Linked DNA regions of Homo sapiens: region 1 is linked to region 2. The links come from fine-mapping of genetic effects on gene expression. Tissue or cell type: whole blood. Region 2 holds a variant in brackets; the other region holds the start of a gene. All regions are shown on one strand. Distances are from middle to middle.

Region 1 (2,754 bases), 67 kb after region 2:
GCTCTCCTCACTCCGGACCTCTCAGACGGTCCCCAGGAGGGGCAGGAAGCTGGGGAGACACATTCCAGTCCTGATGCACAGGTGGGTTCTGAACAAGCCCCAGGAAAGCGGAGGCCCCACAGCCTGCTCCAGGGCAGACACCTCGGCTCCCTCTTCTTGCCTTGGCTCCCTGGGATCTGATGGGAGAAACTGCTGGGCCTGGGGCTGCTGGGTCTGGAGATGAGCATATTTAAGGGACCTGACCACTGCCCCAGGGTGAGGGAGGAAGGGTCAGAGGTTGTTTGTGTGTCCAGAGCAGGACCAGCAGGAGAGGCAGTGACTGGGTAGCAGATTCCAGCTTGGTTTACAACTAGTGAGATTCCTATCACAAGGAGTGTGCAAGGGGGCAGCAAGACCTTCCAGAGGGGATCTTACAGAGGGGCTGGGCCAGATGCCATAGGTCTTCTTTACCTAGGGAGCCTGGGACCACAGTCCCTCAGACCTGTGCTCTGCCCCATCCCTTAATGCCACGCGGACACAGCACCTTGGCACTGTCACCCCTCTGAGGTCCAGGCGTGGCCGCCAGTCACCCCTTGTCACACCAGCTAGTGTGTGTCACACCTTATCACACACTAGCTCTGGGACACAGAGCTAGGCACCAGCACCTGGCCCGGGTGGGGAAGGGGAAGGAGCTATCCTATACCACTCTCTAAATCGAGGTGCCTACGTGGGGCTGGTCCAGGCAGTCGTGCCGCCAGGAGTCCAGCCACCTCCAACCTAGGGCTCCTCCAGCCCCAGACGAGTAAACCCTCTTGGCGGGCCGGCTGATGCCCCACATGCACGCCCAGGCCGGCTTGGCGGGGACCCGGGGATGCCCCCCACCCCACCGTTTCCTGTACCAGGAAGCTGAGGCCCAGCAGGTAACGCAGCCAAGAGGGGGAGGGTCCCGACAAGAGTCCCATGGAGCACCCGGGCCACAGCAGGGGCCTGTCGGGACCGGCTGGCCGCGCCCAGAGTGAGCTTCCCTCACCGCGGGCAGGAGGGGTGGGCGGTGCAGACAGTGCTCATGAGGGCAGCGAGCCGTCGGGAGCCCGGACCTCGAGGCGGCCCCTCCCAACAACCCCGCGAGAAGGGGGCCACCAATGAGCAAGCTATCCTGACGGGGAAACTGAGGCCTGGAGAGGAGCAGTGCTTTGTGCAAGGTCACGCAAAGGGGCTGAAAGCCAGGTCCCCCGCGCTCCGAGCCCCGCATCCCTCCCTCTCCGGGAGCTGCAGCCGCAGCGCGCACGTCCCGCCCGACGCCCCCATCGCGCAGACCGGGAAGGCACGGCCGGCGGCGCAGGGCCGCCCTACCTTGATGACTGCCGCGCAGGTGGCGGTGGCGGCGGCGGCGTCCAGCTCCGGCTCCGCGCTCCTCGCCGCCCGCCGACTCCCGGCGCCCAGAGCCGCCGCCGCCTCCCCCTGCAGCCCGGCGGGCGGGGCCGGAGGGCGGGGCGGGGGCCTGGCCCAAGGTCCGCCCTTTTGCCCGCCCCGCGGGTCCGCCCTGGCCACCCTTTTCCGCCCCCACGACCCCGACCGCGCTCCTGGCTCCCCGGGGCGGGTCTCGGGGCGCGCACACGTGCTGGGAACAGGCGCGCACACGCCGCAGTGATTGGGGCGGGCTGCCGGCCACCAGGCGGAGGCTGGGGACAGGCAGAGCCGCGGGCCCCACGTCGCGCCGTGCCCTCGCTGCGTGGTGTGGGATGAGGAACCTGACCTCCCGGAGCCTCAGTTTCCCCCGTTGTGAAATGGAGACAGTAACCGCGTCGGCCTCTTAAGGCTGTTTGAGCCCTGGATGTGACGATCCCGGCCGGGTACAGTGCGCGCGCCGAGCCCGGCCAGGGAAGCGCTCCTTTCCCCGAGCAGTTACAGCGGTTACCGAGGCTTCCCCGTCCGCAGGGAGGAGAGGAGCCGGGAGCGCCGCTGGGAACCGAGGAGGACGCCCTTCCTTCTCTCGGGACCAGCCGGGGGCGCTGCTGCCAGCCTCGCTGGCTGGAGAGCCCTGAGGACACTAGACAATGGGGAGGCCCTACCTTTGGGTACCACCCCCACCTAACACTACTGAGCCACGCACTCCTCTAAGCGCCTTCTGTGCATTACCTCGCTTCACTGTCACACAGGCCTATGAGGTTGATACCATTACTCACCTATTTAACACAAAAGAGCTGAGGCACAGAGATATTAAGTACCTAGGTTAAGATCACCCGGCTAGTCATGCAACCCCAGGCAGTATGGCTCCCACGGCTACTAAGCTAACAGCCACTCCACTCCACACCACGTCTGTGAAGAGCTCTTGGTTTTGTTCAGTAGAGACGGGTTATCTTGAGGGCCTTGAACTGCTCCGTGGCACATAGTAACCACTCAATATATAGTTGTGGAGTGGATAACAGAGTACACTGTTACTACTTTACATATCTGTATCGTTTCTTCTAAGCTTCTAATAATAGTGGCTTTATTTAGCCACTATTATTACCTCCATTTTACAGATAAGAAAACTGAGGCTTGGAGTGGCAAGGTACTTAGGGAGCTCTTGATTCTCTCCTTAGAATGTGACTCAGCTTCCATAGTCCACTGTACCACCCCCCTGCCCAGAGCTGGACGGGCTCCCTGCCTACCACCCAAAGCCCAGTGTGCACTATGGTCCTGAAAACCCCATCCTACAGCTCTGATTCAGACCTTCTGGAGCTGGATTGCCCAGCAGGTAGACTGAACGCATGCTTCTGGTGTTAGCGTGCA
Region 2 (2,754 bases):
AGACAGGTCAACCTAGATCCTTCCAGCTCTAGTTTTCTACTGTGTTCTTTCCTCTTGAGAAGTTACAGCTCATCATGGGCCCTTAATAACAGAATTCAACAGAAGGCATCATCTGAAAACAAAGTCAATTCAGAAACTGTTGTTGCAAGAAGGCAAACAGAAAAACGGCACCATGTCCCACTGGAATCTCTTTCAGCGATGGAGAGTTTTGTTTTCTGGTAAAAAATATAGAAATAGTGGTTGTCCTTGAGGGGACTTGTGGTTTGGTTCTAAACCTCCCCATGGAGCCGAGTGGTGTCCCTGAGGGTGAGGAGGGCAGAGGTCTCTGCTCAGAGCTGCTCTGAGCCCATCCGCAAGTTTTTGATCTCCAGTTCCAACTGTTTGGCCTGGACCTCTCGCTGGGTCAACAGCTCCCGGAGCCTTCGGATCTCCTCCTGTTGCCGGTAGAACATCTGCAGCAACTGGGGAAGAAAGATCGGAAGGCAGGATCACCATGGTGTCAGGACACCAGCTGAAAGCTAAACCACTATCCCTCTTTGACTCAGAAAGGTGGAGGCGGTCACATTAACATGGCTGAGGCCTGATGGGGCTGTCACTGCATAGATCTTTTACAAACACCTTGTTTACTTCACCCAATAAATGAAATTCAAGAAGACTGGAATGTTTCAGATGTATTTTGCTTCCATAGATCCTCCATGAAATAGAGGAAAGGATGCCTGGCTCTGAAGTCTGGGGATTGGTGTTTTCGCCACCACTGAACTGTGTGACCTTGGGCAAGTTACTTACCCACTCTGAGCTTCCATTCCTTCCTCTGGAAAATGGGGTCAGAAAACTGCCCTCTGTGCAGAATGGGTGTTAGATATTGAGTGATGCCCTAAGGGCCTCGTTATCCCACTGGAACGTTGTGACACCCCTATAAGGGTGGCAGTGCTAGTGTCCCCACCGTACCACCGTGGAAACGGAAGCTTAGAGACATTCAGTCTCTGGGTCTAAGACCCTAAATTAGTACTCAGCAGAGCCAGGATCAGAATCCATCTGTGAGATGCCAGCCTCTGTGTTCTTAGCCACTACAGACTGACTTCCAGGGCTGTTGAGAGAATTCAATCACGTGCTGTATCAAAGTGCCTACCCCAGGATCTGCCACACAGTAGGCACTAAACAAATGTGGACTTTGAAAGCACAGAAAGTCCTATAATGTCAGAACTGGAAAGACTTTGATACCCACTAGGTCAAACCCTCTCCATTTTACAGATGGTTTCCCACCATTTTTTTTTTTTTTTTTTTTTTTTTTGAGACAGAGTCTCACTCTGTTGCCCAGGCTGGAGCGCAGTGGTGTGATCCTGGCTCACTGCAGCCTCTGCCTCCTGGGTTCAAGCAATTCTCCTGCCTCAGCCTCCAGAGTAGCTGGGACTACAGGCACGCACCACCATACCCAGCTAATTTTTGTATTTTTAGTAGAGACGGGGTTTCGCCATGTTGGCCAGGCTGGTCTCAAACTTCTGGCCTCAAGAGATCCACCCGCCTTGGCCTACCAAAGTGCTGGGATTACAGGTGTGAGCCACTGCACCTGGTCACCTGGTCCCCACCAT[CT/C]TTTTTTTTTTTTTTTTTTAAGATGGAGTCTTGCTCTGTTGCCCAGGCTGGAGTGCAGTGGTGTGATCTTGGCTCACTGCAACCTCCACCTCCCAATTTCAAGCCATTCTCCTGCCTCAACCTCTCAAGTAGCTGGGACTACAGGTGTACGCCACCACACCCGGCTAATTTTTGTATTTTTAGTAGAGATGGGGTTTCACTATGTTGGCCATGCTGGTCTTGAACTCCTGACCTCATGATCTGCCCGCCTTGGCCTCCCAAAGTGCTGGGATTACAAGAGTGAGCCACTGTGCCCAGCCTCCCACCATCTTTATGTATGCCCATCATTTTGGCATAAGATGGAGCTCACTGCCTGTTTGTTGAATGAATTAACAAAATGAGTCAAGTGACTAGGCCAGGCCACACAGCTGGTTATTCTTCTCATGCCTCATTTTCTCCCTTCTTCTCAGCCTGGATCTGTTCCCCTCCACCCCAGCTGCCCCATGTGAAAGGCCCACCCCGTCCTCCTTCACACCTCATTCTCTGTCTTTGGTGGGGGGCATTCGAAAACGTCAAAGCCATTTGTCAGCCAGGTTTTCTTCTCCTCCAGCCTGTGTTCTGCTGCCCACCTTGGCATCTTCTCCTCCAACAGGGAGGAAGACCTCCAGCCATCTTCTGCAGCCAGCTTTTCTGTCTGATTCAAGAGCCGGGGTGAGGCTGGGGCCATGGAATTGAAGATAGGTCTCTCTGCAGGCAGTGGGTGGGGTCTCAGCAGCTCAGAGCCAGGCCTAAGGGACACCAGGATTGGGTCTGGAAGGGAAGCAGAGCCATGTGAGGACGGGGTGCCCACGGGAAGATGGGCATATGGGGCACCAATGACACAGGCAGGCATGCAGAGACACTCAGAGCCATGCAGACCCATGCAACATGTGTGGGAAATACAGCTACCTGTGGACAGGCCCAAACCCACAGAGCAGGGCTAACAGATACAAATACCCACGTGTGCCACCCTCAGAGTGAAGCTTGGTTTGTAGGAACAGCACGGTGCGTGCACTGAAGCAGCCCCCAAACACTTCAAACTCACATGAGACCTTGCCCTTGCTTTGTAAGGACAGTCCCACCCACACTGCACCCCACCATCTACCAAGTTCATTAGTTCTCTCACCACCTCCAGAAAGCAGGGGA

What was found. PIP is the estimated chance that this variant, and not a neighbour inherited with it, causes the effect.
Region 1: CORO2A starts here. The variant in region 2 is fine-mapped to the expression of CORO2A in whole blood (INTERVAL, PIP above 0.99).

Annotation. Positions count from the first base shown.
Region 1 is chr9:98,191,227-98,193,980 of GRCh38, forward strand. It overlaps CORO2A (coronin 2A), which reads right to left and starts at 1,411. Exons shown (of 12, transcript NM_052820.4): 1 at 1,333-1,411. RefSeq lists an enhancer at 264-918 and silencers at 1,071-1,120, 1,191-1,740.
Region 2 is chr9:98,124,445-98,127,198 of GRCh38, forward strand. It overlaps CORO2A (coronin 2A), which reads right to left. Exons shown (of 12, transcript NM_052820.4): 11 at 2,105-2,379; 12 at 1-461. The coding sequence ends at 330. Among named protein-coding and RNA genes, the nearest start is that of TRIM14, 6.6 kb to the left of the region's middle. The variant CT/C (reference allele first, on the strand shown) is at 1,590.